Regions from separate parts of the Homo sapiens genome. Here regions 1 and 2 are each linked to region 3. The links come from fine-mapping of genetic effects on gene expression. A gene starts in region 3. Each other region holds a variant in brackets. All regions are shown on one strand. Distances are from middle to middle.

Evidence for each region. PIP is the estimated chance that this variant, and not a neighbour inherited with it, causes the effect. A credible set is the group of variants that fine-mapping cannot tell apart.
Region 1: its variant is the best candidate, but not a certain one, in a credible set for the expression of IFT52 in whole blood (TOPMed, PIP 0.76).
Region 2: its variant is the best candidate, but not a certain one, in a credible set for the expression of IFT52 in prefrontal cortex (BrainSeq, PIP 0.52).

What each region holds. Positions count from the first base shown.
Region 1 is chr20:43,616,406-43,620,697 of GRCh38, reverse strand. IFT52 (intraflagellar transport 52) reads right to left here. Exons shown (of 14, transcript NM_016004.5): 8 at 1,672-1,758. Among named protein-coding and RNA genes, the nearest start is that of IFT52, 28 kb to the right of the region's middle. The variant A/T (reference allele first, on the strand shown) is at 2,467.
Region 2 is chr20:43,566,105-43,570,396 of GRCh38, reverse strand. SGK2 (serum/glucocorticoid regulated kinase 2) reads right to left here. Exons shown (of 13, transcript NM_170693.3): 2 at 3,866-3,924; 3 at 3,280-3,329; 4 at 2,675-2,732; 5 at 2,398-2,481; 6 at 881-1,012. The coding sequence starts at 3,901. Among named protein-coding and RNA genes, the nearest start is that of SGK2, 9.2 kb to the right of the region's middle. The variant A/T (reference allele first, on the strand shown) is at 2,043.
Region 3 is chr20:43,588,995-43,592,994 of GRCh38, reverse strand. IFT52 (intraflagellar transport 52) reads right to left here and starts at 2,058. Exons shown (of 14, transcript NM_016004.5): 1 at 1,941-2,058. RefSeq lists an enhancer at 1,867-1,936.

The DNA.
Region 1 (4,292 bases), 28 kb before region 3:
GAACTCAAAGGTTTTCTTCACCCTAATGCACCTTTTATTTTTGAGACAGAGTCTCGCTCCGTCGCCCTGGTTAGAGTGCGGTGGCGCAATCTTGGCTCACTGCAACCTCCACCTCCTGGGTTCAAGCGATTCTCCTGTCTCAGCCTCCTGAGGAGCTGGGATTACAGGTGCCTGCCACCAGGCCTGGTTGATTTTTGTATTTTTAGTAGATGGGGTTTCACCATGTTGGTCAGGCTGGCCTCGAATTCTTGATCGCAGGTGATCCACCTGTCTCGGCCTCCCAAAGTAGTAGGATTACAGGCATGAGCTGCCATGACCAGCATAATGCAACTTTTATTATCAGAAATTTATAATGTATCTTTAAGCACCCTAACCTCTAACCACAAGCTAAAATTTATTAACCTTTGTTCACAATCCTGAATTAATCCCTATTTACTGTGATGACAGTCTGAAATTAAAACTTTTGAAAAGAAGAATACCTAGGCCGGGAGTGGTGGCTCAAGCTGTAATCCCAGCACTTTGGGAGGCTGAGGCAGGTGGATCACCTGAAGTCAGGAGTTCGAGACCAGCCTGGCCAACATAGTGAAACCTCATCTCTACTAAAAATACAAAAATTAGCCTGGTGTGGTGGCGCACACCTATAATCCCAGCTACTCAGGAGGCTGAGGCAGGAGAATCGCTTGAACCCGTGAGGCGATGGTTGCAGTGAGCTGAGGTGGTGCCATTGCACTCCAGCCTGGGTGACAGACAGAGACTCCATGTCAAAAAAAAAAAAAAAAAAAAAAAAGTAGAATATCTAGATCTCCCATAATGTGTCTAGAGACATTGAAACTTCATGTAAATTCCACAGAAATAAGATCTTTATCAATCTCCCAATATAACAATTATAAGGCGTTTCTTTCTCTCACTGGAATCACCAATGGACAGCTCTGGCACATGCTGTACAGACATGTGCTTCCCTACTCTGCCATCTTCCGTAAGACATGTTCCCTTGGCATTTTTTTGACAAAATTGCAATGCCTTTACTTTATTTGCCACATCAGTCAGTGAGTAGTCCTCTACAGAGCCTTTCCTAATTCCCATTCCTACCAGCCCCTCCTCTCCACTCACACCTTGACTCCCGTAATTCAGGTCCCCATTTCTCCTTGCCTGGTGACACCACCACCTTCCTAATTGGCTCTAGGCTGCCTCCTCCTTTCCACTTTCCACACAACTGACAGAAGAATCTTTCCAAAACATTCTAGAAGTTCTTTCATAAACAACAACAACAAAAAAAGAAGAAACACAGATCTGGCTATGCTCAAGGCTGCTGAAAACCCAAGGGCTCCCTGTGGCTTTCAGCATCAAGTTCAAGCTCCTTGGCCTTACACGTGATACTGCTATTGAGCCTGTTCCTCTCCGCTTCTCCAGGCTCAGCTCCCACCCCACCTGACATGCTCAGAAACACCCTTCTGGGTTTACTAATTTGTCTCTCTCTCTCTCAGTGTATTACAAACTTTTCCAAAGCAGGGACTGGGACTATGCCTGACTCGACTTTGTATTCTCAGTGCCTGGCATATAATGGGTTCTGAGTAGCTGCTTTTAAATGAGCAAATAAACTTACCAGTATTTTTTTAAATGACATGAAAATAATACACATTGTATATTAATATGACAAAAGAAAAAGCTTACCATGATTTTGCTGTTTTCTTCTTTGTCCAAATATTGATCACTGAACATGTGACATGAACCAAGCACTGCCAGCTTCCCACCTTGGTTCTATTGATGACAAAGCAGGGTCAGATACTCAAATCCGAAAGTGCATCTCATGTATCCTAGTACCCAGACACTTATTAGAATCATGCTAGCAACTGTCTTATATACTGAAGAGTGCCAATTCACACCCAGATTTTAAAGTTTAGAAATACCAACTATAGGCCAGGCGCAGTGGATCAGCCTGTAATCCCAGCACTTTGGGAGGCCGAGGCAGGCGGATCACCTGAGGTTGAGAGTTCAAAACCAGCCTGGCCAACATGGTGAAACCCCGTCTCTACTAAAAATAAAAAAAAATCAGCCAGGTGTGGTGGCATGCGCCTGTAGTCCCAGCTACTCGGGAGGCTGAGGCAGGGAAATCGCTTGAACTTAGGAGGCGGAGGTTGCAGTGAGCTGAGATCGCGCCACTGTACTCCAGCCTGGGCAACAGAGCGAGACTCCATCTCAAAAAACAAAAAAAAGAAAGACCAACTATAATAACTACTACACTTTAACCTGCCTCTCATTTTAGATACTTCTATATTTTTTTATTTGGCTTTAACGAAAACTAACATAAATTAATTCTACATTAGCTGGGTGTGGTGAGGCATACCTGTAGTCCTAGCTACTTGGGAAGCTGGGGCAGGAGAATCACTTGAGCCCAGGAGCTCGAGGTTACAATGAGCTATGACTGCACCATGCACTCCAGCCTGGGAAACCCTGTCTCTAAAAATT[A/T]AAAAAAAAAAAAAAAATTAAATTGATTCTACAGCATTTTCCTATTGTTGTTTATCTTATAAACGAAGATCATAATTTTAAAGGGAAAAAAGATAAACTCAAAGACAGTCTGTACAATTAAAGATACCTATGGGTACCAAAAAAAAAAGTATTTAAGTAAGATCCAAATAGAAAGCTAAAGCAGGCTGAGTGCAGTGGCTCACGCCTGTAATCCCAGCACTTTGGGAGGCCAAGGTGGGCAGATCACCCTGAGATCAGTAGTTCAAGACCAGCCTAGCTAACATGGGAGGCAAAACCCTGTCTCTACTAGAAATACAAAAATTAGCTAGGGTTGGTGGCACGCACCTGTACTCCCACAGCTACCTGGGAGGCTGTGGCGGGAGGATTGCTTGAACCTGGGAGGCGAGGTTGCAGCGAGCTGAGATCGCGCCACTGCACTCCAGCCTGGGCAACAGAGTAAGACTCAGTCTCAAAGAAAGCTAAGGCAAGGCTGGGCGCAGTGGCTCATGCCTGTAATCCCAGCATTTTAAGAGGCCGAGGCGGGTGGATCACTTGAGGCCAGGAGTTCGAGACCAGGCTGGCCAAGATGGCCAAACTCCGTCTCTATTAAAAATACAAAAATTAGTCAGGCATGGTGGTGCATGCCTGTAATCCCAACTACTCAGGAAGCTGAGGCATGAGAATCACTTGAATCTGGGAAGCGGAGGTTGCAGTGAAGCAAGATCGCACCACTGCACCCCAGCCTGGGCGACAGAGTGAGACTCCGTCTCAAAAAAAAAAAACCAGAAAACTAAGGCACAAGCATGAGAGAGTCATAAAATAATGACTGGTTAATAAGAAAAATTTTCAATACTTGTAACTTTTAACAAATAAAAACAAAGTACTTTTTCCTATCAGATAAATAAATATGAAAATATGATATAAACAGCGCTAGTCGAATTTTAGTGAAATAAGTTCTTTCACACATTGTTGCTGAAACTATTAACATATGCAACAAAAGCAGTCTGAAACATAAAAAATTCTATGCCCAGTTGTGTAGTTATAGTCACAAAAAATTAGAAATAAATCCAAATGTTCACAAAAAAGTAATTCAGAATGATGCAACCTTCTTCAGCAGTTAAATTTCATATTATAAAGGGTTTTCAGTAACATGGGAAAATGCTTCCAACACATCATTCGGTTAAAAAAAAAGTATACTATAATTTTTTTCCCATTTTTAGAGATAGGGTCTCACTCTGTCTCCCAGGCTGGAGTGCAGTGGCACAATCATGGCTCACTGCAGCCTCGAACTCCTGGGTTCAAGTGATCCTCCTGCCTCAGCCTCCCAAGTAGCCAGGACTACAGGAGCATAACACCACACTCAGCTAACTTTTTCGTAGAGACAGGTCTTACTATGTTGCCAAGGCTGGTATCAAACTCCTGGCCTCAAGTGATCCTACCTCCTTAACCTCCCAAAGTGCTAAGATTATAGGCATGAGTCACCATGCCTGACCTATACTATAAATTATATTGCTATTCTACTTTAAAGCTTACGAGGCAAATAAATAAAAATAAGGCAAAGCAAAAGTAGGAGAAAGTGAATAATATGTCAACCTGGGCTGTCTTAGAGTCTTGGAGTAGTGCGATGGGGGAATTTTTTTTCTTTTGCTTTATCTCTGTATTGTTCATTTTTTCTACAATTATTGTAACATTTCTACAATATTACTTTTTTTTTTTTTTTTTGGAGACAGTGTCTTGCTCCACTGCCCAGGCTGGAGTGCAGTGGCATGATCTTGGCTCACTGCAACCTCCGCTTCCAGGGTTCAAGTGATTCTCTTGCCTCAGTC
Region 2 (4,292 bases), 23 kb after region 3:
TGTGTTCCAGGTTCCAAGTCAGGCCCTTCCACATCTCTTATTTAATCCTCATGACAACCTTCAAGGTACAAGTGTCATGCTAGTTTCATGTAAGAGGAAGCTAGGAGGGGTCAGAATGGTTAGGCGACTTGCCCAAGGTCATGTAGCTTATAATTGGCAGAGCTGGCATTTGAACCTGCGTGGTTCAAAGATTATGCTTTTCCATCAATCCAGGCGATATGATGATACGGCTGTCAGACTGAGCTCAGGTTAGATCCACCCATGGGCCAATGTTTTTGGACTATTTTGCTGGCATGGAAAGCCCTTCACTTAGGGATGCAGGACAAAAACCCCCCTCTTAGCATCATTCTGAAAGGCAAGAGATCACGCAGGTTAAATCTGGGGTCACTGACTGGAGCTCCACTACATTTTGCATCTTGACCAGAGAGACAGAGTGAAGCCCAGGAGGGAGCTCTGCTTGTCCCAGCTGTGCTTCTGGGTCACCAGGTGGCCTTGAGGTCTCTGTTTACCACAGTGACCAGTCAATCCCACCCTGTGGCCTATGGGAGCACTAGAAACCTTGACCACGAGCTCCTCTTAGCATTGACCTTTCCCGGGCCTATCAAAGTGCGTCTATGGGCAACTCTGAATGAGGAAGGCAAGAAAGCATTATGGTGGGGAGTCTAACAGACCTGAATTCAAGTCCTGACTCTACCAGGTATGCGCTGGGTGGCCTTGAGCAAATGATTACCTCCCTGAACCTCAGTTTCTTTAGCTACAAAATGGGTCTATTGTAAGATGAAGTGAGATCATTCCAGAACTTGGCATGCAGTGGGCATGTGGGATGGACAGCTCCCAGCCGAGAGCCAGCCCAGGGAAGCCTCCCTGTGGGCCCACCCACCTCTCCCCCGTTGACATAGTCGAGCACGAAGTAGAGCTTCTCAGGTGTCTGGAAGGAGTAGCGCAGGCCCACGAGGAAGGGGTGCCGCACGTTCTTCAGAAGCACACTGCGCTCTGCCATGATGTGGCTCTGCTGTGGAGTCACAAAGAGAGGGGTCCATGTCACAGCCCACAACAGCCTCTTTTATCCCGGCTCAGCCCATATAAGCTTGTGGGTGGGGGTCATCCTACCCAGGACTTTCTCATGCCCCTGCTCAAACACCCACAATGGCTCCCTATTGCCCTTAGAGCCAGGCCCAAGTTCCTTCCTTAGTATTCAGGGCTCAGGGTGGTCAGCCTCATCCTAAGCTAGTTCATGTGGGCACAGCTCTAGCCCCTGTATCAGAGCTTCTTGCCCTTGGAGTGAAAAGCAAAGCATGTGTGATGCCTACATAACTGAGTTCCTAAGGGAAAGAAGCCACACACTATCCATATTCATGTATTTGCTCATGCTATTTCCTCTTCCTGGATGTCGCACCCTCTTTTCAGACCATCAGAATCCCACCATCAAGGCCAGCTGCACCGCTGCCTCCCTCAGGAAGACCTCCCATTCCACCCCCCACGGAGACCTTGTTAACATTAATCTCTCTTTTCTCTGAGTCCCCCAACCTCCTATGCAATCCTCTCTCTGGGCCTGCTCTGGCCTACTAATGGAGTCAGGTGTTAAAGGAACTCAGGTCAGCTGAGGCATCAAGAAATCCATGATGGGGCTGAGTGTGGTAGCTCATGCCTGTAATCCCAGCACTTTGGGAGGCTGAGGCCAGCGGATCTCTTGAGGCCAGGAGCCTGACCAACATGGCAAAACCCCATCTCTACTAAAAATACAAAAATTAGCCAGGAGTGGTGGCGGGTGCCTTTAGTCTCAGCTACTGGGGAGGCTGAGGCATGAGATCACTTGAACTCAGGAGGCGGAGGTTGCAGTGAGCTGAGATGGTGCCATTGCACTCCAGCCTGGGTGACAGAGCAAGACTCTGTCTCAACAACAAAAAAAGAAGTCCATGATGTGCTGTGCATGTAGCTCATGCCTCTAACCCCAGCACTTTGGGAGGCTGAGGCGGGAGGATTGCTTAAGCCCAGGAGTTTGAGGCTGCAGTGAGCTGTGATTGCACTACTGCACTCCAGCC[A/T]TATGGCCTGATGGCATGAAGGGTCTTCAGAGAGAATAAAGTGGGGCTCCACATTATACAGATGGGGAGCCTGGCACTTGGAGCAGGCAGAAGACTTGTCCATCGTGGAGCCTGTGTTTCCCAGGGGAAGGCAAAGCCAGGCTGGTTTTCCTGAAAGCCCTGTGGTGAGATGGCTTGGCCTGCTTTCTTTGAGAAGGGCCAGCATCCTGCGTACCACCTCCCCTCTACCCTTTGTTGTGACCACTTCTGCACCCAGGCCCATGGACCTGTCAGAGGTGGGACCCATCTTTGAAAGCCACCCTAGGCTGCGGCTTGAGAAGCAGAAGAAGAAATGCCTGTGCCCGAGCTCTGGTACCTCTTTCTTCTTTAAGATGGACTTTTTCTGTAGTACCTTCACTGCATAGAACGCCCCATCAGACTTGCGCTTGGCCAGTAGGACCTGAGAAGAAACATGAATTTGAGGCCCTGTAGGTGACTTTGGACTTCCCAACAGCAGTACAAGGCCTCCCGCCTGCCCCTGCTTTTGTCTGCAGGTGCGAGTGCTCTCTCTTCATACATACAAGTGGCAGCAGGGGCTGGAAGAGGCTGCAGAAGGGAAGACCCAGGCTTCCCACCCTCACCAAGTCACTCACCTTCCCGTAGTTCCCTTTGCCGATGACTTTGAGGAAGTCGAAGTCCGTGGGCTGGGCACTGGGGGAAGAGGGAAAAACACGGATCAGCATTTGCAATGTCTGGAAACCTGGTGCCTGAGAACAAACCTGGGCTTCTTTTTAACTTTAGAATGGGGAAATACAGAGAGCCTTCCAGGAGCCATGCCTCCTCACCCCCGAAGAACCCCATGTTCTCCCAGCCGAAAGAGGGCTTGTAAGATTCACCCTGGCCCCAGGGGAACTCAAATTCAAGTTAAACAACAGGCAGAGGGTAGAGATAAAACCAGACATACTGCACAGAAGGCCTGCATAGAAGGCAGGGTTCTGGTACCCAAAGCCCCTCAGAAGGGCCTGAAGTGTGGGGAGTTGCTAACAATGCAGACATTTAGGTGGCATTGCAGGAAGAGGGTTCAGCATGGGCAGAGGCTGGGGAATTTGTGGGAGATAGAGCTGGGGAAAGGTCCTGGGCCCAGATGGCAGACAGTCTTGAATGCTAGACCAGAGAATCTGGATTTTATTCCCAAGGCAAGGGGAGCCAGGTATGAGGGGAGTCAAGTAGGAAAGGTGCTTGAGGGACCAGAACTCACTTTGGGTTGGCTGAAGGCCCCAGGTTGATGTTCCCATTGGCCCTGGAGGGCTAAAGAAAGAAGTGATTATGATCAGCAGATCCCTACTCCTTGGCTACCTCCCTTTCTCCTGGCCCAGGCCCTGATCCCTTCTCCAACAACTCTACTAGGCCTGCCTGCCTTTTTCTTTTCTTTTTTTTTCACCTGCCCGCCTGCCCGCCTCCCTCCCTCCCTCCCTCCTTCTACCCACCCACAAATCCACTTATCCACCATCTTACCCACTTCTCAAAACAGCCTTGGGAGGCAGCTGGCTGTTGTGCTAATTGAATAGGCGAGGAAACTGAGGCCCAGAGAGGAGTTGCCCAGGGTCTCACAGGCAACCAGGTTGGGATACGACCCAGGTGTCTCCATGACAAATCTCATGATTTTTCCAGTTCATCTTGAAGCCCTATTTCAAATCTCTACTCTATTCACCCTGCAAGTGGCTCATTTCTATGTGCTCGCAGTAACCCTCTCAGCCCCTGACATTGTCTGGGACCCACAGATTTCCTTAGCCTCGGGAAGAAGTGAGCCCCCGATGATGGGTGGGGGACCAAGAACCACTCACCTGTGGACTTGGGGTCCCAGCTGGGCTAGAGTTCATTCTGTAGCAATGATCAGGCAGCTCTGGGGGGACAGGGAGGAGCAGGCATGAGAGAGTTGGTGTTGGGGGGTCAGCTCCGCCCATCCAGGGCTTCAGGCACCACTGCCCTCTCCATCCTCCCCTACCTGTGCACCTGCCACCGCCTGAGGGTTTCCTACCCGAGGTAAGCAACCCCTGCATGGATGGAACAAGAAATGATATCCCCTGGACCCAGACTTCCTAACAAACATCTCAGAAGGGATAAAGGGGGATGGTCAGGGTGTGGCCCCTCCCAGGCTGATTCTTTTCAAGAACTGGGGACACCCAGGGCAACAAGACCCCTGTGAGCCAGGGTAGCTCCAGAAGTCCAAGATGGCCAGGGCTGGAAGGATCTTTTCAGGGCATAAAGTCT
Region 3 (4,000 bases):
CATGGGTAGCTGGGACTACAGGCGCGCACCAGTGTCCAGCTAATTTTTAAATTTTTTGTAGAAGCAAGGTCTCGCTATGTTGCCCTTGAACTCCTGACCTCAAGTGATCCTCCTACCTCAACCTCCCAAAGTGCTGGTTTACTGGCATGAGCCACTGCACCCAGTCGGGTTTCATAATTTTCTAATTGATCATTAAACAAACATTTTCATAAGTTTATTTGGCTTCTGGTAGTTTTTTTGGTTTGGTTGAATTTTGCAGGCCATATAGATTTTAAATTTTATAGAGTTAAAAGTATGAATCTTTTCCTTCCTGGCTTCTGGATGACATGAAACACTTAGAAGAGTTTTTTGTCATTCTAAGATTATAAATAAATTCAACAATGCTTTACTTCAGTACTTCATGATGTAATTTTTTTTTTTTTTTGAGAGAGTCTGCTCTGTGGCCTAAGCTGGAGTGCAGTGGCACGATCTCGGCTCACCACAACCTCTGCCTCCCAGATTCAAGAGATTCTCGTGCCTCAGCCTCCCAAGCGGCTGGGACTACAGGCGCCCAAACACACCCGGCTAATTCGTGATGTAATTTTTTAACATTTAAATTTTAGTCCATTTGGAAATTATTGTGGTGCTCAAAATGGGCTTCATTCCTTTTTTTTTTCCTTCTTTTTCAAAGCATAGTCTTGCTCTGTCACCCAGGCTGGAGTGCAGTGGTGCAATCTCGGCTCGCTGCAACCTCCGCCTCCCAAGTTCAAGCAATTCTCCTGCCTCAGCCTCCCCAGTAGCTGGGATTACAGGCGCGCGCCATAGTAGAGACGGTGTTTCACCAGGTTGGCCAGGCTGGTCTGGAACTCCTGACCTCAAGTGATCCACCCGCTTTGGCCTCCCAAAGTGCTGGGATTACAGGTGTGAGCCACCTCGCTCGACTGGTTTAATTATTTTCTAAATTGCTAAAAAAGCTGCCTGACCCCAATTCATCTCTTCAATGCTGATTTGAAATACAGTACCACCTCGCCTATATAATAAATCCCTATATATAAATCGCTCTTATTCTGAGTTCTAATATATTTTATCTACCTGTAAGCTCCTGCTGAGTCCCAAACTTTTTAAATTAATTTATTTATTTTCAGAGACAGGGTTTCCTTTTGATACCCATGCTGGTCTCTGACTCCTGGGCTCAAGGGATCCTGCCGCCTCAGCCTACCAAGTAGCCAGGACTACGGGCCCACACTGCTGCACCCATCTTCTATGCTAGTTTAATTGCTATACCTTTATGTTATAATATCTGGTGGTTCTGGAGAGCTAATCTCCCTTATTAGCATTAATTTTAGAATTTTCCTGGCTACTTTCACATATTTATCCTTCTTTAAGCACTTTAACATCATTTTGTCCAGTTGAAAAACTGCCCCCTCCATGGTCCCACCACCGTGATACATCTATCTTTTTTTGTTCTGTTAGTTCAGCCCCTGGTGAGAGTAGCAGGTCTGCGTTCCTGTACTGTCAGACTTAGCCAGAAATGCATTTCCTTAATAATAGTATAAGGCCTTTAAAACTATAAAAATAACAAATATTTGGGTAACGCTGCCAAACCATTCTCTCGCTTTCTCTTCAATAACATTACCAGTCAAATCAGTATTTTCCCACATGAATACCGAGGGGTCGCAGCCACGACAGAAGAGAGATTAAGACTGTACGATTCCTCGTCCCATGCTCTTTCATAGTCAGCGGAACGACTAAACACCTGCACCACCCGAGGCCGTGGAGATGGGCGCCCAGCCGGGGCGCCAGGAACCCGGGCTACGTCCGCGCCCACAGTTTACTTCACCCCGGGGGACCCTGGATGTTCTATGACCGGCCCAGCGGCCTCGAAGAGTGCGGCGAGTCCCTCGCCAGCTCCCAGGCCGCACCAACGCCCCAGCCGGCCCACCACTGTTGGCGCCCTTTACCTGAGGCCCAGCGACCACCGCTCACCTGACGCCGCCCAGCATCCCGCGGCCAGGTATCCAAGGCCGCTTAGTAACCGGAGAGGCGCGTCGGTGCGCCGGGAGGCGTGGCCCAGGACGCAGCGCTAGCTCCGGCCGACGTGATGACGACAGCACGGAAGGCGCCTCTCCGTCGCAGGCGTCAGGGGTAGGCAGCCTGACTGATGTGGGGCTGTACCATTTGGTGCATGAGGGGCAAATCCAAACATAAGGAGAATTAACTTTTCACCAAAAATAAACCCATTTAATTTTGTTCTTTAGTATCAATTACGAGTAAAGACTAATAACAACGGTAGGACCCAAGTGCCCAAACTTCGCTCCACCCACAGGGAGGAGAATAGTGAAGGCTTCCAGCGCGGGGGGGTTGGAGAACGCCCCAGCTTCGATTCCCAAAGCGCAGGAGCAGAGTGGAGCCAGGCGAGGGCGGGGCCGGGCGGAAGGCTGTGCTGGACTATTAGGAACTACTTAACGGAAAAGGGTGCGCAGGTTTAGTGTTGAGAATGATAAACCGTATAATTCTGTTTTATTAACTCCGCATCTTTGCTTGCCATGGTACTAGGCTTGAGCGCCGGCGAGCATGGCGGGGAGTTAGAACTTGAATAGATTCTACAAAAATGTGAAAACTATGAACTGTATTAGGGAGTCTAACGACTAAGCTGGTCAAAAAGGCGCCCCTGTTGAGCAGAGATTTGAAGAGAGAGTGGTATTCATTAAGGCAAAGGCTGGGGAAGGGCGTTCCCGGCAGAAAGAACTGCTTGTGCAAAAGCACCACCAATACAGGTTGCCCTGCCATCGCCATTAAGATGGGAAACCAGAAGCCTGCAACTACCAACAGGCCACCCGACTACCCAGGAAAGCGCTCTGTGCCTGCCTTTAGAGGTGTGTGGATTTGTGAACAACGCTGCAGCAGCCTGGAAGACCCAAACTGAAGATTGCAGAGAGCTCTGACAGTTTTTATTTACATTTATGTTTGTCTTCGAATCTAGGATATTAAAACACATACAACTCGTGTTGCTTTCCACAATTTCTGTCACTGGAAATTTTAAAAGTGGAGACGGGCCGGGCGCAGCGGCTCTCTCCTGTAATCCCAGCACTTTGGGAGGCCGAGGCAGGTGGATCTCTTTAGCCCAGGAGTTTGAGGCCAGCCTAGGCAACATGGCGAAACCCGGTATCTACTAAAAATAGGAAAAATTACCTGGGCGTGGTGGCGCGCGCCTGTAGTCCCAGCTGCTTGGGAGACTGAGGTGGGAGGATTGATTGATTGATCCTAGGAGGTTGAGGCTGCAGTGAGCCGTCATGGTGCCGCCGCACTCTAGCCTAGGCAACACAGTGAGACCTTGTCTCAAAAAGAAAGTGGAGAACAGGGTGATTTGAGAATTCTCTTTGGTCAGATGAAGTGGCTTCTGCCTGTAATCCCAGCATTTTGGGAGGCCAAGGTGGGAGGACTGCTTGAGGCCAGGAGTCTGGGACCTGGGTAACAGTAACACCTTTTCTCTCCAATAATAATAGTAATAATAAATAAAAAAAGAAAATTAGCCAGGCATGGTGGCACACACCTGTAGTCTTAGCTACTTGGGAGGCTGAGGTGGGAAGATCGCTGGAACCCAGGAGTTCGGGCTGCAGTGAGCCATGATCGCTCCACTGCACCCCAGCCTGGGCAACAGAGTGAGACTCTGTCTCTTAAAAAAAAAAAGTTCTCTTCTTGGGGATGCTGTATTTTGGTGCAGAATTGGGTGAATACAGTTTGCAGTTAGGGTAATAATGGAAATGAAGTATTCTCACTGAAGAGAGAGTAGGCCGTCCCATTTGAAGGCTGGGACAAATCTTGGGATCTTTCTGCCTGATATGCAGTCAGTGTTTGCTACAGCACCTGCCCAGAGCATTTCTCCCACTGTTAGAGATTGCAGAAAGAGTAAGAGTTTTGGCCGGGTGCAGTGGCCCACGCCTGTAATCCCAGCACTTTGGGAGGCCAAGGCAGGTGGATCACTTGAGGTCAAGAGCTCGAGACCAGCCTGACCAACATG